2 separate regions of the Homo sapiens genome follow, and region 1 is linked to region 2. Evidence: fine-mapped QTL for protein levels in blood plasma. A gene starts in region 2. The other region holds a variant in brackets. All regions are shown on one strand. Distances are between the middles of the regions.

Region 1 (17,404 bases), 16 kb before region 2:
CATGCCTGTAATCCCAGTACTTTGAAAGGCTGAGGCAGATGGATTACTTGAGGTCAGGAGTTCGAGACCAGCCTGGCCAACTTGGTGAAACCCCGTCTCTACCAAAAAATACAAAAATTAGCCAGGTGTGGTGGTGCACACCTGTAATCCCAGCTTCTCGGGAGGCTGAGCCAAGACAATCACTTGAACCTAGGTGGTGGAAGTTGTAGTGAGCCGAGATCACGCCACTGCACTCCAGCCTGAGCAGAAGAGCAAGACTCTGTCTCAAAATAAGTAAATAACTAAATGAAATAATGGTATCTTGGATTTTTTTTTCAAGAACCCTTGCTGTTTAGATCAATGGTCCTCAACCTTTTTGGCACCAGAAACCGGTTTCAAGGGAGACAATGTTTCCACGGACAGTGTGGGGCTGGGTGGGGATGCACAGATGGTTTCAGGATGAAACTGTTCCACCTCAGATCATCAGGCATTAGATTCTCATAAGGAGCAAACCTAGATCCCTCACACACGCAGTTCACAATAGGGTTCGCATTGTTGCTGATCTGACAGGAGGCGGAGCTCAGATGGTAATGCTGGTTTGCCCGCTGCTCAACACCTGCTGCGCAGCCCGGTTCCTAAACAGGCCACGGACCAGTACTGGTCTACTGCCTGGCTGAGGGTTGGGGACCTCTGGTTTAGATACTTGCTGAACTGTTTCCAGATGAAATGATACGTCTGGCGTATCAGTCAAAGTTCAACCAGAGAAATAGAGCCAGTATTAAGAGATCTATTGCAAGGAATTGGCTTGTGAGACTATGGGGCTAGCTAGGCAAGTCCTAAATCCACAGGGCAGGCCATCAGGAAGAGCAGGCTGGAACCCTCAGGCATGAACTAAAGCTACAGTCCACAGATAGAATTTCTTCCTTCTCAGAGAAGTCCCAGTTCTGCTCTTATGGATTTTCAACTGATTTAATCAGGCTCACCCAGATTATCTAGGATAAGTCCCCTTAAAAATCTACTAATTATGGGCAGTAATCACACCCACAAAATACTTTCACAGCTACACCTAGATTAACAAATAACTGGGTGCTATAGTCTAGCCAAGTTGACACATAAAATTGACCACCACATCTGTGAATTGATTCAAAATTACAGGGGAGGGAGAATGTAGGGGTAGAACTGGCCCATACTTTGATGGTCCTTGAGGTTGGGGTGATGAGACATAGGAGTTTATTATAGTATTCTATCTGCTTTGTGTATGTTTACAATTTTCTAAATAAAAGTTAAAATACATATTTTGAGGCCAGGCATGGAGGCTCACGCCTATAATCCCAGCACTTTGGGAGGCTGAGGCGGGCAGATCACCTGAGGTCAGGAGTTCGAGACCAGCCTGACCAACCTGGAGAAACCCTGTCTCTACTAAAAATACAAAATTAGCTGGGCATCGTGGTGCATGCCTGTAATCCCAGCTACTTGGGAGGTTGAGGCAGGAGAACTGCTTGAACCCGGAAGGCGGAGGTTGTGGTGAGCTGAGATCATGCCATTGCACTCCAGCCTGGGCAACAAGAATGAAACTGTCTCAAAAAAAAAAAAAAAAAAAAAAAAAAAAAAATATATATATATATATATATATATATAAACACGCAGAATCTCACTGCTGTATATTTGATATTTTTCTTTCTGAATCTTTTTCTCTACATATTTGTACATAGTTAAGATCATGCTGGAATTACAATTTTATATTTCCTTCGTTCACAGCATTATACCATTAGCATTTTCAGATCTCATTAAAAATTATTCCCAAATATCAAACAAAATGATTAAGAACTCAGGCTTTCACATCACAAAAACCTGGTTCACACATCCTAGTTCTGCTGTTCATTGTTGTGTGATCTTTGTCTAAAAATCTTAAGTTTTCTATGCCTCAGTTTCCTTTAATACAGCCATTCAATTCAACTGCTTGTTCATTTGTTCATTCAACTAATATTGATTGAATTCATCCTCTGAGTAAGATCCTGTGTAGGTGGCATAACTCCACCAATTAACAATGTAGACAAAGTCCTTGCCTTCAGGGAGCCAACGTTCTAGTGGGGGAGACAGACACTAACCAACTAAATACACACTGTACAGGGGATTATAAGTGATCTGGAGAAATATAAAGAAAAGTAAGGGGAAAGGAAAGTGCCAGGAGCATGAGATGGGGACGCCATTAGGTCAGAAAAGTCTTTTCAGATAAGGTGACGTCTGAACGAACACTTGGAAAATGTGAAGGAGTCGGCCATTTGAATATCTGGAGGAAGAGCATTCTAAGCAAAAGAGACCACAAATACAAAGGCCATTGTGATTGGAGCAGAATAAATGACTGGAAGATGGAGGAGATAGGGTAAGGGAGTTAAGACGGAGTAGATGGTGCAAGGGGGCCCCATTTAGAGTTCTGAACAAAGGAGGGGTATCTGGCTTCTGTTTCTAGTTACAGTGATAAAAAACAAAGGAGACAAGAGCAGAAACAGGAAAACCAGTTGGTGGGTGATTTTAATAATCCAGATGAGAAATGCTGATGGCTTGGATCAGGTTGGTAGCAGTAGAGGCTGTGAGCAATGGTCAGACCCCGGATATATGTGAAAGTAGAGCCCACAGTGTTTGCTGATGAATGTACATGGAGTGAGAGAGAAAAAGAGGGGTTAAAAGTTATTCCAATATTTTTGCCTGAGTGACTGAAAGGATAGAGTTGCTATTAAATGACATGTGAATATAGCAGGGAGAGAGGGTTTAGTAAGAGGAAGGTTAAGATCCAGACTATTTTCTTAAAAAAACAAAAACTGTTTATACCAGCACATATCCATAAGCATGGAGAGAAAAGAAGAAAAGAAAACAACAAAAACATTTTGGCATGGTGGACCAGGGGTAACTGACTTAGCAGACCCAAGAAAGCACAATCCTAAAACAATGAGAAAATAAAAAATCAACCAATGTAAACAGCAGTGTTCTCAAAAAGCTCAGGAATCTGTGGCATCAAGTACAGCTGCAAGTTGGGTTGGCAAGCACAAAATAAAGATAATTAAAGCTGTTTAAGAATAGTGATTCTGGCCAGGTGCAGTGGCTCATGCCTGTAATCCCAGCACTTTGGGAGGCTGAGGCGGGTGGATCATGAGGTCAGGAGTTCAAGACCAGCCTGGCCAACATGGTGAAACTCTGTCTCTACTAAAAATACAAAAATTAGCCAGGTGTGGTAGAGCACCTGTCATCCCAGATACTAAGGAGACTGAGGCAGCTGAGGCAGGAGAATCGCTTGAACGCGGGAGGCAGAGGTTGCAGTGAACCGAGATTGCACCACTGCACTCCAGCCTGGGCGACAGAGCAAGACTCCTTCTCGAAAAGAAAAAAAAAAAAAGAATAGTGGTTCCTAGATACCTTCTACTCTTTGCTGATGAGTGACTGCCTCTTCCTAACCCAAGCACAGGAACTGGAAGGCACAAGGCACAGTTACAGGTGGAGGTGTCATACCAAAACAACAAGATTAAGGAAACCAAGGCATATTCAGTGTTTAGACTCCAAGCCTCTAACCCCATCAACTCCCAGGTTCTAGGTTAACTCTACCCTCTAGTCAGGACTTTGGAAGATTCTTTTGTGAGGAATCCAAGAAGTCCAGGAGAAAGGACACAAATGTGCTGGCATTTGCAGTTTGCTAGTCAGATTATCCTACAGTGAAGCTTGAATCAATAACTCAAAACTTCCAATCAGCTTTTTATCCCCTCACCTTAAACAGAAAACAAACGAGGTGCCAGGAGTGGTGGCTCGCTCATGCCTGTAATCCCAGCATTTTGGGAGGCCAAGGCGGGTGGATCACCTGAGCTCAGCAGTTCGAGACCAGCCTGACCAACATGGTGAAATTTCATCTCTACTAAAAATACAATAATTAGCTGGGCAGGATGGCAGGTGCCTATAATCCCAACTTCTCGGAAGGCTGAGGCAGGAGAATCGCTTGAATCCAGGAGGCGGAGGTTGCAGTGAGCCGAGATTGTGCCACTGCACTCGAGCCTGGGCAACAGAGGGAGACTCCATCTCAAAAAAAAAAGAAAAGAAAAGAAAAAGAAAAAGAAAGAAAAGAAAAGAAAAGAAAAGAAAGAAAGAAAACAAGGCAAGTATTTAAGGACAGCCCCCACTGTTGTTCTAGTCAGGCATCAGGAAGATATGCACTTAGATATCAGTTTGTGTTTTATCAGCCATTTTTACCCAGAAGTCTGTCTCTCTTGTTATTGTTACCTCCCTCTATCTTCTGTCATCTGCTTTCTTCTTTTCTAAATAAAAGTAGAGTTCCAAGAAGCCCATGTTTTTATTTTATTTTATTTTATTTATTTATTTATTCATTTATTTTAGAGATGGGGTCTATGTTGCTGAGGCTGGACTTGAACCCCTGGGCTCATGCAATCCTTCCTTCTCAGCCTCCCAAGTAGCTGGGACTACATGTACACACCACTATGTCTGGCAGGTTCCTGCTTGTGTCCCTTTGCTCTTATCTGCTTAAAAGTCACCTCTGAATCATCACTAGAACTTGACTTCTCACAGATGAAAAGGCGGTGTGATGAATACAAGTAAAGATTGGGATGATGCACTTGAAAGATGGAGGAAGGGGCAAGTCAAGGAACATAGGTGGCCATGAGAAGCTGAAAAAGCAAGGAAACAAATTATCCCCTCAGAGTCTCCAAAAGGAACCTCTAAAAGCCAAAACGTTGACTTTAGCCCAGTAAAACTGAATTCAGACTTCTGACCTTTAGAACTGTAAGAGAATAAAACTTGTTTTAAGCCATTAAAACAAAACAAAACAAAATTTGACCTCTCACAACAGAGAGGAAGTCTTACTGCCTTTCTGTAGATTTCAGAACCATGGTCAGGGATCCAAATACACTCTATGAGGGTGACATGGGCTCCATCACACACTCCAGAAAGGAGTGTAAATTAATCTAACGTTCCGAAAAAGTAGCTATAATATGCTGCAAGATTTTAAAAGTGCACATTCCTCAATCCAACAACCGTATTTCTAAAAATTAATTCTAAGGAAACCTTTTTTAAAAATACGGACATTGTTATTACAGATACATATTGAAATATTTATGGATACACTGATATAATGTCTGGGATCTGCTTCACATTAATCCTGTTTGGTGAGCATATTCACATTTTCTCATAGGGGAGCCACTAGGCACATATGGCTATTGAGCTAGTCCAGTTGAGATATGCAATGAATGTAAAGTACACACTAGATTTTGAAGACTTAGTACCAAAAAAATTAAAATATGTCATTAATAACTTGGAAACTGGTTATATATTAAAACAATATTTTGGATACATTGAGTAAAATAAAATGTATTATTAAAATTAATTTCACAGGCCAGGCACAATGGCTCACACTTATAATCTCAGCACTTTGGGAGGCTGAGGTGAGATGGGAGGATCACTTAAGGCCAGGAGTTCCAGACCAGCTTGGGCAACACAGGGAGACTCTGTCTGTACAAAAACTTTAAAAATTAGCAGGCCTGTTGGCACATGCCTATAGTCCTAGCTACTCATGAGGCTGAGGCTGGAAGATCGGTTGAGTCCAGGAATTTGATGCTTCAACAAACTATGATTGCACCACTACACTCCAGCCTGGGCAATAGAGTAAGACCCTGTCTTAAATAAATAAATAAATAAATTTCACTTCTTTCTTTCATATTTTTCAAATGTAGCTACTAGAACATTTTAGGTTACATTAAGTTAGGTTTTAAATTACAAACATGGTTTTCCTTTGTAGTTTACATTATATTTTTATTAGACAGCACTGGTATAGAATCCATATACTATAGATAAAACAAGATGGCCCATTAAACATGAACATCTTTGGATACTTGACCAAAAATGGCTATTGTTGAAACTAAATAATGGGTATGCAGGAGTTTATTATACCATTTTCTTTACTTTTGTACATGATTGAAAATTCCATAATGAGTCTGGGCACGGTAACTCACACCTGTAATACCAGTACTTTGGAAGGCCAAGACAGGAGAATTGCTTGAGCTCAGGAGTTTGAGACCAGCCTAGGCAACATAAAGAAACCCTACCTCTACAAAAAAAAAAAAAAAAAAAAAAAAAAAATTAATTAGTTGGGTGTGGGTCACGTGCCTGTAGTCCCAGCTTAACCAGAAGGCTGAGGAAGGAGAACAGATTGAGCCTGGGAAGTCAAGGCTGCAGTAAGCTATGATCGTGCCACTGTGCTCCAGCCTGGGTAACAGATCAAAATCCTGTCTCAAAAAAATATATATTACATAATGAAAGTTTAAAAATATGTGACTAAAGCTGCTTTCAGAAAAATACCAATCCCTATTTATATAATAGTAAAAAGTGAAAAAGTAAGCCCGATCTTCAATAGCAGTAGAGGAATGGCGAGGTGAATTATGTTCATCTATATGCTATGCTAAAAGAGTATGATGCAGCCATTAAATAATAAAATAAAAAATAACATCTAACATTTGAATGCTTACTATATTCCAGACCTGTGCTAAGCAAATTATATGCATTACATCACTTAATTTTTATAACAGCTCTCTGAGTTGGATAAAATTTTTATTCTCCAACCTCTTCCCTTGACTCCAAATTTATATATTCATTAGCCTGCCAAAACCCATTAGCTAGATTATATGGATAAAGAGCCTAACAAACTAAAAGAAAAAATGAATTGGCAGAAACAGAAACTATGCAAGGAAAAAAATATTTTAAACAAAAAAAAGAAACTCATTAATATTATAAGAAAAATAAGGGACACTGCATCAATGAAATAGAAACAATTTTTTTCTTTTTCTTTTTTTTTTTTTTTAAGACAGGATCTTGCTATGTTGCTCATGCTGGCCTTGAAAACCTGGGCCCAAGCCTCCCACTTCAGCCTCCCAAGTAGCTGGAACTACAGGCACACCCCACCACATCTAGCTCAGAAACAATTTTTTTTAAAGGAAAGATGAGATATTCAGAACAAAGAAACAGTTCTTGGAAATTTAAAACATGATAGCAGACATTAAGAACTCGCTAGAAGGGTTGAAAGATAGCATTGAGGCAAACCCTCAGAAAGGAAAGAAAAAACACAAAGAAATGGGAAAAAGAGTAAGAAGACAAAATTCTAAGACTAGCCCACCAAAACCCCCATCTGAATAACACAAGTTTCAAAAAGAAGAATCACCCATGAAATACATGGAAAATTTTACCCTGACCAGAAGGATATGGACATGATTGAAAGGGCCCAGCCCAATAAATAAAAATTACTTTACACCAATGTACAATGCTATAAAAGTTCAGAACATTAAAAAGAAAAAGAATACCCCTTATAAACTTTCAGAGAGGGAGAAAAAAAAAACAGGCCACATACAAATGATCAAGATGAGAATGGATTTAGTTTTCTCAACAATAACTCTGGAAGCAAGAAGCCAATGGAGTAATGCCTTCAAAATTCTGAGGGAAAATCATGTTTGAGCTAGAGTTCTGTATCCAGCCAAAAATGATCAATTAGGTATGAGAATAGAAGAGAGACATTTTCTGACAGCTTCCTTTTACAGGGAGCTAACTGGAAGGTGTGTTCCACCAAAAGAAGAGACTAAACCAAGGAAACAAAAGGCATCGACTCCAGAAAAAAAGGAGATCCAATATGGGAGAAAATGGGAAGGAAATCTCCAGGATGGTGATGAAGGTGTAGAGGGGACCAGCCAGAATGAAGTGACTCAGTAGCCTCTAAAGGAAATAGCCAATAGACACATGAAAAAATGCTCATCATCACTGGCCATCAGACAAATGCAAATCAAAACCACAATGAGATACTATTTCACACCAGTTACAATGGCGATCATTAAAAAGTCAGGAAACAACAGGTGCTGGAGAGGATGTGGAGAAATAGGAACACTTTTACACTGTTGGTGGGACTGCAAACTAGTTCAACCATTGTGGAAGACAGTGTGGCAATTCCTCAAGGATCTAGAACTAGAAATACCATTTAACCCAGCCATCCCATTACTGGGTATATACCCAAAGGATTATAAATCATGCTGCTATAAAAACACATGCACACGTATGTTTATTGTGGCACTATTCACAATAGCCAAAGACTTGGAACCAACCCAAATGTCCATCAATGATGGACTGGATTAAGAAAATGTGGCACATATACACTATGGAATACTATGCAGCCATAAAAAGGATGAGTTCATGTCCTTTGTAGGGATATGGATGAAGCTGGAAACCATCATTCTCAGCAAACTATCGCAAGGACAGAAAACCAGACACCGCGTGTTCTCACTCATAGGTGGGAATTGAACAATGAGAACACTTGGACACAGGAAGGGGAACATCACACACCGGGGCCTGTTGTGGGGTGGGGGGAGTGGGGAGGGATAGCATTAGGAGATATACCTAATGTAAATGACGAGTTAATGGGTGTAGCACACCAACATGGCACATGTATACATATGTAATAAACCTACACGTTGTGCACATGTACCCTAGAACTTAAAGTATAATTAAAAAAAAAAGATGATGATGAAGTTGATAGAACTTTACATCTGGGCCATGCGTGGTGGCTCATATCTGTAATCCCAGCACTTGGGGAGGCAACCTAGTGAGACCCCCGCTCTACCAAAAAAAAAAAAAAAAATGGCCAGGTGTGGTGATGTGTGCCTGTAGTCCCAGCTCCTTGGAAGGCTGAGGCAGGAGGGTTACTTGGAGCCCAGGAGGTCGAGGCTGTAGTGATCCATGATTGCACCACTGCACTCCAGCCTGGAGGACAGAGTGAGAACCCATCTCAAAAAAAAAAAAATTGTGTTACACTCATGCAATGGAATACTACTGAGCAATAAAAAGGATTGAACTCCTAATACCTAGAATAACATGGATGACTCTCACAGACATAATGTTGAGCTGAAAAAATCAGACCCAAAAGAATACATACTGTATGATACAATTTATATGAAGGCCAAGAATAAACAAGAGGAATCTATGGTGATATAGAGGCACAATAGTGGTAGACTCCAGGAAATGAAGTTAAGAAGAAAGAGGGAACTTAATTCGGCCACAGAAATGTTCTGTATTTTGGTCTGGATGGTGGTTACGAAGTGGTTCATGCCTGTAATCTTAGCACTTTGGGAGGCTTAGGCAGGCAGATTGCTTGAGCCCAGGAATTTGAAACCAGCCTAGGCAACATGGCAAGACCTCGTCTCTACAAAAAAATACCCCCAAAAAAATTAGCCAGGCATGGTGGCTGTACCTGTAGTCCCAGCTACTTGTGAGGCTGAGGTGGGAGGATACCTTGAGCCTGGGAGGTGGAGGTTGCAGTGAGCTGAGATCATGCCACTGCACTCCAGCCTGGTGACAGAGTGAGCCTCTGTCTCAAAAAAAAATAAAAAATAAAAAATAGAAGGGTAACCTGTTGACAAGAACTTCCAGCCCAGGATTTTATACAAGAAGGCTGTTTTCTGTGTAAGCAAAGCAGTTTATTTTAACGTTTTATGGTTTCTCCTAGGAATATGCCATTGATTAAATTATGAAAAAGCTTTAGGCGGAGCACGGTGGCTCACGCCTGTAATCCCAGCACTTTGGGAGGTCAAGACGGGCAGATCACCTGAGGTCAGGAGCTCAAGATCAGCCTGGCCAACATGGCAAAACCCAGACTCTACTAAAAATCCAAAAATTAGCTGGGGTGGTGGTGGCTTCCTGTAATCCCAGTTACTTGGGAGGCTGAGGCAGGGGCATCGCTTGAACCTGGGAGGGGGAGGTTGCAGTGAACTGAGATCAAGCCACTGTACTCCAGCCTGGGCAACAGAGTGAGACTCCATCAGAAAAAAAGAAAAGAAGAGAAAAAGAAAAAAAAAGATACTTGGCTGGGTGCAGTGGCTCATGCCTGTAATCCCAGCACTTTGGGAGGCTGAGGTGGGCAGATCACTTGAGGTCAGGAGTTTGAGACCAGCCTAGCCAACATGGTGAAACCCCGACTCTACTAAAAATGCAAAAACTACCCAAGCATGGTGGTGCACGCCTGTAATCCCAGCAGGAGAATCGCTTGAACCCAGGAGGCAGAGGTTGCAGCGAGCCAAGACTGTGCCACTGCACTCCAGCCTGGGTGACAGAGTGAGACTCCATCTCAAAAAATATGTATGCATATGAAAAAGTTTTAGGGCCGGGCATGGTGGCTCATGTCTCTAATCCCAGCACTTTGGGAGGCCGAGGCAGGCGGATCACAAGGTCAGGAGTTCGAGACCAGCCTGGCCAACGTACTGAAACCCTGTCTCAACTAAAAAATACAAAAAAAAAAAAAAAAATTAGCCAGGCATGGTGGCAGGCCCCCGTAATAGCAGCTACTCGGGAGGCTGAGGCAGGAAAATCGCAAGAAAAGAAAGGAAGAAAGAAAGAAAGAAAGGAAAGGAAAGGAAAGGAAGGAAGGAAGGAAGGAAGGAAGGAAGGAAGGAAGGAAAGAAAGAAAGAGAAAGAAAGAAAAGGAAAGAAAGGAAAAGAAAGAAAGAAAGAAAGAACAAACAAAGAAACAAAGAAAGAAACAGAAAGAGAGAAAAAGGTTTAGACCCAATTTATACTTTCCATGTATACCTCCTCATAGGCTAATTTGTTCCTCAGTTTGGCGGTTTTTTGATTGTTTCTAAAATGCTGTTTCTAAAAGAACACTTATCTGCCCTAAAATGACATTTTTGGGGTTTTGAACAAAATCCCCAGCTGGTGTTTTGTGACATTGCAGGAACAAGCCTATGTTTTCCTGTATAGATTTCAGTGACTACTTATGACTATCATTTCCATCCTATTTCAACTGTGCCATTTCCATATAAAGTCTTAAGATTTAAAATTTCACATCCTATAGCTTGCTGCTGCCCACATAACATGTGTAAGTAGTAAGTACCCATTTCCTGATATTTACTTTTGCTTTTTTCCATAGTAATAGTTCTAGAATATCTGATTTTTAGCAAGGCTCATAGCCACCAGAAGTGGAGACTCAATTTCCCAGCATTGCTTGTAGGTTTGGTAATGAGGCTGAGTTCTGGCCAACGGAAAGGAAGCAGAAGTGTCCTGATATGGCAACCAAGACTCTTCCTGAGAGAACAGTGGACACCCATCTTTTGCCCTTTTCCTTTATCCTGCTGCAAAGTGTAAGGGCAGGATCTGTAGGCCTGAAGTAATGAGAATAAGAGCCACCTCATGGATGTTAGGGATGTAGGGAGAGTAAGCTGGGTCCCTGAGCTGAGGGACCAGGCCAGCTCAGGACCCCCACAAAAGAGGAAAATAAATGTTTAAGCCACAGTTATTGAGAGACTCTATAACTCATTGCTAAAATTGATGCACACTAACTCCCCTCCAGATGCCTCTTCTGGGTCTGATGCCACCACTAATGGGCCAGGTGACCAGAATTGAATGTAATCAACTTCTTCTTCAGATGTGACCCTATGATTTCGCTCAAGTTTCCTGGGCTCTCCATGTCCTGCTCATGCTGAAGCTCCAACCTGTGGATGTATCCTCAAACTCATTCTTTCAAAATGGTCAGTAGAGATTTTTATTTTCAAATGCCCAAGGGGGGTTGTTGTGCACAAATGGACTATCAACAGTTACTAGCCATTAAAATAATATTTAATTTTTAAAGTCTTATGTTTAAAAACCTAGATTTTCTTAAACCTTTTATTTCAACTTGTAAAGTTATTATTCTGTTTTATAGGTAGTAATTTTTATGTAAATTAGAAACAATAACTTTAGCTTGCTCTATGATGAATGTTCAAATAAGTCAAGTCTAAGAGATTAAATTTCCAGAAACATTAGCACCACTTAAAATCATGATTAATTAAATCCCCTGAAAACTTTAAGTCTACTTCATTAATGTCATATTGGTGGCAGCAGTGACCCATCTAGAGTGGCCACTGCCAAGACATCGGCTGCAGCAGGGAGGCACGGCTGGGGTTGTACACTCCATGGAACAGGCAGAAGCCCTGCCCTCCCCAGGTGCCACTGCAGCTGCCCAGGCCCGGCTGCAAACCCAGGCATCTCTGTGCTCTTGGGGGCCCAGGAAGGCCCCCCTGCGAAGTGTCTGCTCCCACTGCCTGGCCTCTCCCTGCTCCCAGTGCCCGCTCCAATCATGAAGCAAGGTTGGGGCCGAACCCGGG[C/T]ACTGTCACAGCCCAGCCAGGTGGGCACACACTGAGGTTGGCACTGACACGCCAGACCCCTGCCACCTTGGCCCCTTCCGGACTTTGGGCACTGACACATACAGGAGGGAAGCCAAGCAGGGGCTGAGGACAGTTGAAACATGATGAATGTGTTAGATGTTTTTAAACATTAGAGATACTTTAATAAAAAATACTCAGAGATTGGCTACATTTAACAACAAAATGTATTATTATGGGTTTGATTTACTAAATGATGGCTCTATGTTTTCCTTGTGTTGCAGACTCTCTCACCCAACTTTAGTAGCATAGCCTGGATCACAGGTGAGCCGAGATGAATGGGTCAAAGGTGTAGGATAGCAATATAATTACCCACACGTCAGATACAGATGTTTAAGTCCAGGACACAGGAGCTGGCTCCACATACATCATGGATGATTCTACCTTAGCCACAACTTAAAACACAGAATCTCCATTTGCTATTTCAACAAGCTGCTCCAAACCTTTCAGACAGGATTTAGTTTCACAATTAATAAACTACTTAACCCATTTATTCAACACATATTACTGAGCGCAAGCAATTAATGAGGCAATGTTCAAGGCACTTGGGTTACAGGAAAGAACAAGACAACGTTTTCTGCTTTCTCAGAGATTAAATTTTAGTAGGAACAGACGGAGGGAAGACAACAAAATAATGATGTAATAAAGCAATAAATTATTTTCTGTCAGAACTGAAAGAGGATAGCCAGGATGGGCCTCACTGAGAAGGTGACATTTGAGCAGACTTGAAGAAGATGCAGGAGCCAGCAGGCAAGATATGGGAGCCCTTGAGGGAAGAGTGTCCTAGGAGAGGGGACAGTCAGTGTGTGGGCTCCGGGCAGCAGGTTGCTTGCCATACTGAAGAACAGCAAGGAGGCCAGAGTGCTGGAAGAAAATTTGCAAGGGCAAGAGTGATAGGAGATGAGGAAAGAGAAAGGATAGGGGATCAGACCGTGAAAGGCCTTGCAGGACACTTAGCAGGGAGGTGAGTGTCATGATGATCTGACTTATGTTTTAAAAGGATCTCTGACTGCTGTGTGGACGACAGATTGTAGTGTAAAGGTCGAAGGAGGGAGACCATGTAGGAAGCTGTATTAAGTATCCATTGCTGTATTAACAAATACCTCAAAACTTTGTGACCTCAACAGCATTTATTATCTCACTGCCTCTGTAGGTCAGGAATCTGGGCACAATTTCGCTGAGTCCTCTGGTTCAGGGTCCTTCACAGGCAGCAATCAAGTTGTCAGCCAGGGCTACAGTCATCTCAAGGATCCACTGCAGAAAGATCCACTTCCAGCTTCACTTGGGCAACTGTCAGCAGGATTCAGTTTTTTTCAGGATATTGTATCCTGGGCCTCAGCTCTTGTCTGTTCAGGGGGCTTCTCATTTTCTTGCCATGTGGGGCTCTCCACCGGAGAGCTCACAACAGGGCAGCTTGCTTCATCACAGCAAGCAAACAGAAAAGAGAGGGAGGCAGAGAAAGAGAAAGAAAAACAGAGAGACAAACAGAGGTGTCACAGTCTTTTATACTCTAATCTCAGAAGTACATCCCACAACTTTTGTCATAGTCTATGCCTTAGAAGAAAGTCACTAAGTCCAGCTGTTTCTGAAAGGGAAGGGATTATGCAAAGGTGTGAATACCAGAAGGCAGAAATCACTGGGGGCCATTTTAGAAGTGTCCACCACAGAGGCTACTGCAGTTATCCAAACAAGAGATAGTGGTGGCTTGCACAAGGTTTATTATAACAGAGGAGGAGAGTAGTCAGGTTCTTAATAAAATTTTAAAGGTAGAGCCAACAAGATTTTTTGTCTGACTGGATATGGGGTGTGAAAGTGAAACATCAGCTGGGCAAGGTGTCTCACACCTGTAATCCTATCACTTTGGGAGGCCAAGGTGGAGGATCACTTGAGGTCAGGAGTTCAAAACCAGCCTGGCCAACACAGTGAAACCCCATCTCTACTAAAAATACAAAAAAATTAGCCAGGTGAGGTGGCGGGCGCCTGTAATCCCAGCTACTCGGGAGGCTGAGGCAGGAGAATCACTTGAACCCAGGAGGCAGAGGTTGCAGTGAGCCAAGATCGCACCATTGCACTCCAGCCTGGGTGATGGAGAGAGACTACGTCTCAAAAAAACAAACAAACAAACAAACAAAAAAACAAACAAAAAAAAAAGCGAAGGATTGAGGGTGACTTCAGGGTATCTGCTCTGAACAACTGGAAGGATGGAGTTGCCATTGACACAGATGGAGAAAACTAAACAGTAAGGTTTAGTGGATTAATAGGGAGGGGTTGCTGAAGATCAGGAGCTCTATGTTGGTATGTTAAGTTTGAGATCACCAACAGATGAATGGATAAAGAAAATGTGGTACTTATACACAATAGACTGCTATTCAGCCATCAAAAGAATGAGATTCTGTCATTTGCAATAGCATGGATGGAACTGGAGATCATCACGTTAAGTGAAAATAAGCCAGGTACAGAAAGACAAACATCACATGTTCTCACTTACTTGTGAGATCTAAAAGTCAAAACAATTGAACTCATAGGGATAGAGAATAGAAGATGGTTACCAGAGGCTGGGAAGGGTAGTGAGTGGTGTGGTGGGGGGAGGTGGGGATGGTGAACGCATACACAAGAAATTTAGAAAGAATGACTAAGACTAGTATTTGATAGCACAACAATGGGACTATAGTCAATAATTTAATTGTACACTTAAAAATACCTAAAAGAGGCCGGGCGCGGTGGCTCATGCCTGTAATCCCAGCACTTTGGGAGGCTGAGGTGGGCGGATCACGAGGTCAGGAGATCGAGACCATCCTGGCTAACACAGTGAAAACCCATCTCTACTAAAAATACAAAAAATTAGCTGGGCATGGTTGCAAGCGCCTGTAGTCCCAGCTACTCGGGAGGCTGAGGCAGGAGAATGACTTGAACCCGGGAAGCGGAGCTTGCAGTGAGCTGAGATTGTGCCACTGCACTCCAGCCTGGGCAACAGAGCGAGACTCCGTCTCAAAAAACAAACAAACAAACAAAAAACCTAAGACTATAATTGGGTTGTTTGTAACACAAAGGATAAATGCTTAAGGAGATGGATACCCGATTTTCCATGACATGATTATTACGCATTACATGCCTGTACCGAAATATCTCATGTACCCCACAAATATATACACCTGCTATGTAGCCATGAAAATTAAAAATACAAAAAAATTAAAAATAAAATTAAAAATAAAAAAAGTTTGAGATCATGATCTGACAACTAAGTATATCACAAGTCCTTGAGCTGTCCTTCAAGTTCTCTTTAATTTTTATCATAACTTCTTTCAACTCAGGTTTGAGTAGATGCAATTTTATTCCTCGACTAGGATCGCTGCTAATTTCCTCAATCTAATTGGATCCACCTAACAACTTTACACCCTCAATGGATTCTGCACGGTTAAGAGTATGGACTCTGGGTCTGAACCATGCACTGACTAGCCATCTGAGGGGGCACAAGTTATTTAGCCTCCCTATCCGTTTCCTCACCTGCAACGTAAGGATAATAATATCACCTCTATTCTAGAGGTTACATCTTGGGCTTTTGCAAGGATTAAACAATTTAATATTTGTAAGGCACTCAGAATGGTGCCTAGTGTTTGTTAGAAGTGCTATAAGGACTAGCTACACAAATGTTCTATGTGAGTGTGTGTGTGTGACTGGTTCTCAGCCACAATTCTGGAGTCACTTGATAAAAATTTAAATACTGGTCTTCCCAAAACTGATGTTGTCTCTTGGAAGGCTTTTGATCAACTACAGGCTCTCAGAAAATATGGACAAAGGCGCAAGAACCCCTCCAAAACTGGAATAAATACTTGAAGATATTAGGGAATTTTTGTTAATTTTCAGGTGTGATAATACTATTGGGGTTATATTTATTTTAAAGAAATCATCGTTTAGATACATATTGAGGTATTTATGGCTAAAATTTCTTGAATTGGCTTTTAAAATAAAACAGAAGACAGAGTAGTAAATGAGTAGAAATGAAATAAGATTGGCCCTGTGTGGATAATTTTTGAGAAAGTGTAATGTGTACATGGGAGTTTATTATACATACTATTCTATTTTTGTATATGTGGAAATTCTTAATAATAGAAACATTTTTGATCCAGGATCTATGCCAAGAGAAATTTAAGCCCTAGTACTGCTTCCCATGGTAAATATTTGGTACAACTTGGGTTCTGAATATTTATTAGCACCACAGTGACCTCTGAGACAGTGTCCCTGCTGGTATGGAGACATACAAAACACAGGTTTTCAGGCCCAACATTGTCCTTTTAACATATTACTACTGCCTTTAATGAATGTTAACTCATGTAATCCTTTAAAAAAAAAAAAAGCCAAGATGTAACACCCATCCAACTTGTCTCCAGCTGCAACCTTGCCTCCTACTGTCTATGATGAGGAGGGCATTCTTAACCCAACAGCCTGTACCATCTTTAAAAACATGTCAGATCATGTCACTGCTCCATTTAAAGCATCCACTGGCTCCTATCTTGAGAGTGAAAGCAAGTCCTTCCAGTGGCTTCCAAGGTTCCACATGCCCTGGCTCCTTCATCTTATACTATCTCTCCCTCAATCACCCCACTTCAGCCTCATTGGTCTTCCTGCTCTTCCACACGCATGCTGAGAGAGAACTTGCTGTTCCCTCTGCCTGGAATCCCAGACATCCACATGAATTGCTCACTCATCTCCTGAAGTTCTCTATTCAAGTGTCACTTTTTCCTCAAGGCCTTCCCTCACTTCCCTATTTAAAATAACTACCCTTTCCCCCTAAAGCAAATCCACCCTAGTACTCTCCATCCTCCTTTTTATTTTTCTGTGGCACTTACCACCATATGACACACTATTTGTTTATTTTCTGTATCTACCCACTAGAATGACAGTTCCATGAGAGTAGAACTTTTGCCTGTTTTATTCACTACTATGTCTTCAATGCCTTGAATAGTTTCTGGCACACACGAGGCATTTAGTGTTTGCTAAATGAATTAATACATGCTCATTCCTTCTAGATGGCACCACGTTAGCATCTCTTCTCCCTGAATGCCCTGTCACTCATTCTGCATCCTTGTTCACCACTATGTTCACTATGCTGCATTATCCAGCACCTGTCCTTGTAGTCATTCCTTTTGGGGAGAGTTGTTTCCATGGTGACACAGGAGCTTTTCACCTACTTAGCAGGCCTCTCA
Region 2 (8,173 bases):
AACAGGGGGCTCAAGCTGCATGAAATGCTGCGGGAAATAGGAATGAGAGACGCAGAATGGTCGGAGAAAAAAGCTAGGAAGGTGTTTGGGAGTAAGATTTTGGAGTGCCTTGAATGCCAGACTAGGGAGTTTGGACTATATCCTGTAAGATAGGGGATAAAAATCAACTTTAAACAGGAGTGATATAACAAGATAATGTACTTTAGAAAATAATTCTGTAACTGTAGGGGGAGTCCCAAAGTGTTTCTCAAATTGTGTTCGGGGAAGTTCAAAGTGTGTTTGAGAGCTTGTTTTTATATGCAGATTCTTGCCCCTCACCAGACCTGCAAATAAAGTTCTCTGGTTGTACAGCCAGGAAACTGCATTAAAAAAAAACTTTTTAGGTTAACATACATTTGGTGAGAAAACGCATAAACCATATGGATAGGGCTCTGAATTTTCACAAGCAAACACTTCAGCCAGGCGGGGTGGCCCGTGCCCCTAATCCCAGCTACTCGGGAGGCTTAGGCAGGAGAATGGCTTGAGGCCAGGAGTACCAGATCAGCCTGGGCAACATAGCAAGACCCGTCTCTAAAAAAATTTAAAACAAAAATAATAACACACTCCCGTAGTTAACACCAGATGAAGAAACAACATGGCCAGCAGCTCAGAAGCTCCCCTTTTCCCCTTTAGCCACTGCTGCCTGCACCAAAGGTAAATATGATCATTACTTATAAGAACTGTAGATTAGTTTTGCCTGTTTTGAATTTGATATAAATAAAAGCATACAGGATATATTGTGTCAGCTTATTTGTTAGTGTTATTTATGAAATTCATCCGCATTGTTCCATGTAGTTGCTGTAGACTCCGTTGCTATAGATTGTTATCACAATTTATCCAGTCTCTTGTTTATGGGCCTTTGGGTAATTTCCAGTTTGGAGATAGTAGCAAAAAAAATGCTAAAATGAACATTCTTCTTCATTCATATCTTTTGCTTTGTAAATTATAAAGCAAGACAACAAGACCTAAAGACTGATTCATTCACTACCTATTTATTGAGCCCCTTACCAGACTAAGGTGAGAAAATAAAACAGAAAAGACAGCAAAGGTCCTGCCCTCATGGAACTTATTCTAACTGGAACGAAACAACACCTACGTGGGCAGCAAAACAAGTCAAACAATTGCAATTGTGATAACTCTGAGGGAAACAAGGTGAGCTAGAAAAAGAAGGGTGGGGACTTAACCTTTTTTTATGTGGTAGCCTGGTTAACTCTCAGAAAAATATCTAGGAAAAAATACAAGAGATAAGTTGGCACTGCTACACGATGAGTATTAACAATGGGTAGACCATTCCTGGCAAGAGAGACACCATGTATAAAGGTCATGGAGGAGGAGAGAGCTTGGCCCATTCAAGACCAGTGTGGCTTCAACACAATGAAGGAGGGATGGCATAAGGTGTATCTGGGTATTAAAGCATATGATACAAGGCCAGAGTAAGAAGTTGAGATTTTATTCCAAATATTATGAAAAGCAATCGAACTGTTAAAAACAGGAAATAATGTGATCTGATTTACTTACTTAAAAGATCCCTCTAACTGCTGAGCAGAGAACAGATTAAAGACAGAATTTAGGAGGCTGCTAGAGCAGTCTCAGGGAAGATATGCTGGCATAGAGCTTAGAGGAAAGGCTTGAAATACATCTGGGAACTGTCATGGCAAAGATCATCACCTTAATCAAGTGATAAAAGGTAACACCTCTCTGCACTGGCCTGGGTAAAAATCTAAAGAATAAAATACCACCACAATATTGGGAACCCATGTGTGGTGGTGTATTCCTGTAGTCCCAACTATTCTGGAGGCTGAAGCAGAACTGCTTGAGCCCATGAGTTCAAGGCTGTAGCAGGCTACAATCAGACCTGTGAATAGCTACTGCACTCCAGCCTGGGCAACACAGCCAGACCCCATCTCTTCGAAAAAATGTATATGTGTGTGGCCAAGCACAGTGGCTCACGTTTGTAATCCTAGCACTTCTGGGAGGCTGAGGCAAGTGAATCACAAGGTCAGGAGTTCAAGACTAGCCTGGCCAAAATGGTGAAACCCTGTCTCTACTTAAAACACAAAAATTAGCCGGGCGTGGTGGCAGGCACCTGTAATCCCAGGTACTTGGGAGGATGAGGCAGAGAACTGCTTGAACCCGGGAGGCAGAGAACTGCTTGAACCTGGGAGGCAGAGGTGGCAGTGAGCCGAGATCGCACCACTGCACTCCAGCCTGGGTGACAGAGGGAGAGTCCATCTCAAAAAAAGAAAGAAAAAAAAAAGTGTTTGTGTGTGCGTATATATATAGAGAGAGAGAGAGTGAAGAGAGAGAGAATGTATTCTGATGTGATGCACCAAGGACATAGCATTTCTACCAAAAATTCACTATCTGAATCCAATGAGGAAAACTCCAACAAACCCATGTTACAAATTTAACAGTTAAATCTAAAACTATCAGTTAAAGACTAGAGACCTGATAAATAATTGCAATTTGTAATCCTCCATTAGATCAAGAGCCTGGAAAAACAATTTTTTTTCCCATTTGCTCCAAGGAACATAGGAGCAACAACTTATAAATTTGAATAAGGACTGAAGGTTAGATAATAGTACTATTGCAATATCAATTTCCTGATTTTGATAAGTGTACTGATGACATAAGAGAATCTCTCTGTTGTTAGGAAATACACATTTTAAGAACGTATAGATAGGCTGGGCATGGTGGCTCACGCCGGTAATCCCAACACTTTGGAAGGCCGAGACGAGAGGATCGTCTTCACTCAGAAGTTAGAGGCTGCAGGGAACCATGATCGCGCCACTGCACTCCAGCCTGAGCGACTGAGGGAGACCCTGTCTCTATAAAAGAATGTAACGCCAGGCACGGCGGCTCACGCCTGTAATCCCAGCACTTTAGGAAGCTGAGGGAGGCAGATCACGAGGTCAGGAGTTCGAGACCAGCCTGGCCAACATAGTGAAACCCTGTCTCTACTAAAAATGCAAAAAAATTAGCCGGCCATGGTGGCGCGCGCCTGTAGTCCCGGCTACTTGGGAGGCTGAGGCTGGAGAATCACTTGAACCCGGGAGGCGGAGGTTGCGGTGAGCCAAGCCCCCGCCACTGCACTCCAACCTGGGCAACAGACCGAGACTCCGTCTTTAAAAAAAAAAAAATGTAGCGATAGAAGGACATCATGTCGGCAATTTCCTTTCAAATGATATAGCACATGCAAAACGTTAACATTTGTGGAATCTAGAAGGGTTTGTGGGAATTATTTGTACTAGTTTAGCAATATTTCTGTAACTGTGAATTACTTGAAAATGAAAGGTTAACAAAGTTACTGAGATTAGGAGAGAACGTGAGGAGCGAACAGACCTAGCCATGAATAACCAACAAATAAAACTCGAGGAAATAAAAAGGAACTCAAATGGCATGCGACCAACGGAAGACATAGCTTCTGTACTCTTAACCCTAAATTACTAAGCGATGACCCTCCTGCAGCTTTCTAATCCAAATCACCAAAAACAATCTCGCCGCCCAACTTTGCCAAAAAGCAACTTAACGCCAGCCGACTCCGCCATGTTTTCCCAGTGAGCTTGCGAGCGCGTGCGTACGCACGCACGCACGCACGCACCAACCAATCGGTGCTCACGTCGGTGACTCGTTACCGCAGGGGCGGTGCGTTCTTCTACACATGCGCAGGGTTGGGCGGGTCTTCTTCCTTCTCGCCTAACGCCGCCAACATGGTGAGTCTTACTGTTGCGGGCTCCGGGGCCGTCGACCATGCCGCTCGACCTCCACCTCCGCTGGGAAGCTGAGGCGCCAAACGGCTCCCAGAGGGTCCCGGGAAGCGCATGGTGAGGGTCCCCGGGCCGGCTGTGCAGCGGAATCGGGCCCTTCCCGGACTCGCGCCCTTCCCGGACTCGCCGCTGGCGAGCGCGTGGAGGGCCCGGCAGGCCTGGCGCGCCTTGGGCCACGCGTGCGCGCCTCCGCCGCTGGAGCTGGATGGCTGATGCGGCTCGTGGTCCGAGAGCCTTGTCCTGCCGTGTGGGCCTTGCGGACCTGGGAGCTGGCGGGCGTTGGGAACCGGGCTTAAGCTACTGAGGCGTTTGCTGATTTCGTCCATCCAGGTTGGCGCCTGGCTCTCGGGCGTTTGTTCCCTGCAGCATTCTTTTTCGCTGAATTTAACCATGTTGTCTTTAGCTGCAGAAGGTGACATATGTAGCGAGTATTTCTAAGTAAGTTTCACTGTCCTTTCTCCTCCAATTTTAGGTGTTCAGGCGCTTCGTGGAGGTTGGCCGGGTGGCCTATGTCTCCTTTGGACCTCATGCCGGAAAATTGGTCGCGATTGTAGATGTTATTGATCAGAACAGGGTAAGTGTCACAACTTTTTACTAAACATGGCAGTGGACATGTGCCCTGCAGATGGCAATAATGAATTGTCTCGATGGCTGTGTAAGATGAGGATGCTATGGGTAGTCGCTTTATTTTACCATTGAGGAAACAGGTAATGGTACGGGTTTTAAGCACAGCCTGAAGTTAGCTATTAGTATTGAATTTCAGTATTAGCCACTTAAGCTAGAGCCAGTTATAGGCTGAAACGTTGGTTAGTTTTAAATGAGTTACTATACGTAAAGTGAGTTTAGAACAGATCCAGCACGTAGAAAGCACTTTTGTATTTACTGCTGTGTATTTGAAACAAGCAAACTAAGGAGTTGACCACTGACTATAAATCAGCAGGGATCAGAGTCCTAAAGTTGCCTGTAAATTACATGTGGTTGGTTTCTATGGGGTACTATATAGTTTAAGAAGGAGCATTTAATGATGTGGAGAAATGTTTGTGTTGAGCAAAAGACATACATATATATAACCCAGATAGGACAATCCTTGTCTTTTCTGAGCAATTTATTAAAATAGTAGTGTGGGTTTGATGGCCCTGAACGGATAAGTAATGTTACAGAACCATCTGACCATTTTAATTGCTGTTAGATTTTGCACTGAAGTTCTTGATGTTTGTGTTCTAGGCTTTGGTCGATGGACCTTGCACTCAAGTGAGGAGACAGGCCATGCCTTTCAAGTGCATGCAGCTCACTGATTTCATCCTCAAGTTTCCGCACAGGTAACTGTCCACTAATCACTCCTCCCTCCCATCCCCAGATTTGTTTATGCTAGTAAAAGTTTGTTTTGGAGTAAACAATACGGAAGATTCAGAGCCATCCTGAAGAGGGATTTGCATCATAGAAGTAGACAGGGATTATTTACTTTTAAAATGTCTTGCCTGCGCGTGATAGCTCATGCCTGTAATCCCAGTACTTTGGGAGGCCACGGTGGGAGGGTCTCTTGAGCCCAAGTTTCAAGACCAGCATGGGCAACATGGCGAAAACCCCCATCTCTACAAAAAATAAAAAAAAAATTCGTTGGGCATGGTGGCACGCGCCTGTAATCCCAGGTAGGGGGGCCTTGGGGGTGCTGAGTTGGGAGGATCGTTTTAGCGAGGTCGAGGCTGCAGAGAGCCGTGATCATGCCACTGCACTCCAGCCTGGATGACAGAGTGAGACCCTGTCTCAAAAATAAATAAATAAAATAAATGCCTTGAGGTCACTTTTCTATCCTGGTAGTTTAGGGCTTTGCCTTTGTTTAGATTTGCCATCTTCTTTTCTTCTGGTTTCTGCCAAATTTTTAGCTTAAAGTAAACAACAATACTAAGTCTTGTGTTTATTGCTACTAGCTATCATTAGATAAGCTCTCAGTGTGTGTCAGTTACACAGTATTTAATATAAGAGGTTTTATCCCTAGCTTACATTTAAGTGAGGCAGTGAATAGCAGTTCTTTTTTGACATGAAAATTAAAACACTTTAGTGTGTTGCTATACAGTTAATTCAACCCACAATGATGGTTGCAGTGGAACATGTAATTTTGCATGCTTTAAAAAATAGTCAAAAACTTGCTGTATGTTGGCCGGGCGCGGTGGCTCACGCCTATAATCCCAGCACTTTGGAAGGCCGAGGCGGGTGGATCACGAGGTCAGGAGATGGAGACCGTCCTGGCTAACACGGTGAAACCCCGTCTCTACTAAAAATACAAAAAAAAAATATTCCGGGCATGGTGGCGGACACCTGTAGTCCCAGCTACTTCAGAGGCTGAGGCAGGAGAATGGCGTGAGCCCGGGAGGCGGAGCTTGCAGTGAGCCGAGATCGCAACACTGCACTCCAGCCTGGGTGACAGAGCGAGACTCCGTTTCAAAAAAAAAAAAAAAAAAAAAACTTACTGTATGCTGAGCACTACAGGCACTGTGGGACGTGTATTAACACATAATGGATTTTGAAGTACTGGTAGTTGAAAACATGCCACTTGAACAACCTCGAGTGAACATAGCCATGCTGCTACTACTGTGACATACCAATTAGGGGTGAAGCTTGAGGATACTTGTCAAAGTTCAAAGCAGTAGAAAATACTTGGTAACTTAGATTTTTCACTAGGTACTCTTGTAATTCTGCCTTGGATCCCTGGACACCCTGGATTTTATTTTTAGGATGTTTGGCCACAAATTGTTACTGTAAATTTTTTTTTAAAAAAAAGCCTAACAGTTAATATTAATTACCTTGTTTGTTACGAGAATGAATGGCTCGGATGTGTGCAGTGGCTCATACCTGTAATCTCAGCACTCTGGGAGGCCAAGGCAGGTAGATAACTTGAGGTCAGGAATTTGAGACCAGCCTAGCCAACCCCGTCTCCACTAAAAGTCCAAAAATTAGCCCAGTGTGGTAGTGTACTCCTGTAGCCCCAGCTATTTGGGTGGATGGAACAGAAGAATTGCTAGAACCTAGGAAGCAGAGGTCACAGTGAGCCAACGTTGCGCCAGTGCATTCTCCATCCTGGGTTACAGAGCAAGACCCTGTCTCAAAAAAAGAAAAAAAAAAAGAATGGTTTTCAACACGTCCACTGCCCGAGTGGAATTATATATAGTCAGAGGTGGGTTTTTTGTGTTTTTTTTGAGGGTTTTTTTTTTCTTTTGACACGGAGTCTCACTTTGTCACCCAGGCTAGAGTGCAGTGACGCAATCTTGACTCACTGCAACCTCAGGCTCCCAAGTAGCTGGGATTATAGGCACCTGCAACCACGCCCAGCTAATTTTTGTGTTTTTAGTAGAGATGGGGTTTCACTATGTTGGCCAACCTGGTCTTGAACTCCTGACCTCAGGTGATCCACCCATCTTGACCTCCCAAAGTGCTGGGATTACAGGTGTGAGCCACTGCGCCTGGTCAAGAGGTAGTTTTTAAATTCATAAAATGGGCTGGGCTGGGTGCAGTGGCTCATACCTGTAATCCCAGCACTTCAGGAGGCCAAGGTGGAGGGTTGCTTGAGCCCAGGAGTTGGAGACCAGCCTGGGCAACGTAGCAAGACCCTGTCTCTACAAAAAATATAAAAATTAGCTGGGTGTGCTGGTATGCACCTGTAGTCCCAGCTACTTGGGAGGCTGAGGCAGGAGGATGGCTTGAGCCTAGAAGGTTGAGGCTACAGTGAGCCATGATCATACTATTGCATTCCAGCCTGGGTGGCAAGCAAGATCCTCTCTCAAAAAAAAAAAGGGACTGGATTACAGTTTTGATTAAAATATGCTTGAAGTTAATAACCTATTCTGGCTTACTGAACACAAAAATAAGTAAAATACATAGTGTACCAGGTGTTGTGTAACAGGAAGAGTGCTTTTCAAGGAACAAAGAAAGTGTCTTTGATAATGAGTGACTTCAAAGCTGATTTCTTAATCTGTGGTCTTGGCTCGTTCTAGTGCCCACCAGAAGTATGTCCGACAAGCCTGGCAGAAGGCAGACATCAATACAAAATGGGCAGCCACACGATGGGCCAAGAAGATTGAAGCCAGAGAAAGGGTAATAACTTAGGGTCATTTGAATTCTGGTCCTTTCTTTTTTTGGAGGGTTCAAGATAGTGTGAGAGGGATAATTTTTATTTGTTGTTTTTTTTTTAACAGAAAGCCAAGATGACAGATTTTGATCGTTTTAAAGTTATGAAGGCAAAGAAAATGGTAAGATTTAAGATCTGTATTTTTGTGTAACTTAGCTTTAAATAATAAGGGAGCAGTAGCCAAATCCCATTTCAGGCTGCCAGCTTCTTGGAAGCTTTCTGTAAAAAAGGAGAATTTATCTTC

The links. PIP is the posterior inclusion probability: the model's chance that the variant is causal. Protein levels are from antibody-based Olink assays in UK Biobank. Linkage for the fine-mapping came from a reference panel and not from the study's own genotypes, which makes the PIPs less certain.
Region 1: its variant is fine-mapped to the plasma level of the RPL14 protein (UK Biobank, PIP 0.93).

Annotation. Positions count from the first base shown.
Region 1 is chr3:40,433,231-40,450,634 of GRCh38, forward strand. The region is part of intron 2 of ENTPD3-AS1 (ENTPD3, EIF1B and MYRIP antisense RNA 1); the gene reads right to left. Among named protein-coding and RNA genes, the nearest start is that of ENTPD3-AS1, 11 kb to the right of the region's middle. The variant C/T (reference allele first, on the strand shown) is at 12,144.
Region 2 is chr3:40,453,612-40,461,784 of GRCh38, forward strand. RPL14 (ribosomal protein L14) reads left to right here and starts at 3,728. Exons shown (of 6, transcript NM_001034996.3): 1 at 3,728-3,863; 2 at 4,279-4,380; 3 at 5,031-5,125; 4 at 7,796-7,895; 5 at 7,997-8,050. The coding sequence starts at 3,861. RefSeq lists an enhancer at 3,527-3,821 and silencers at 3,964-4,013, 5,227-5,521.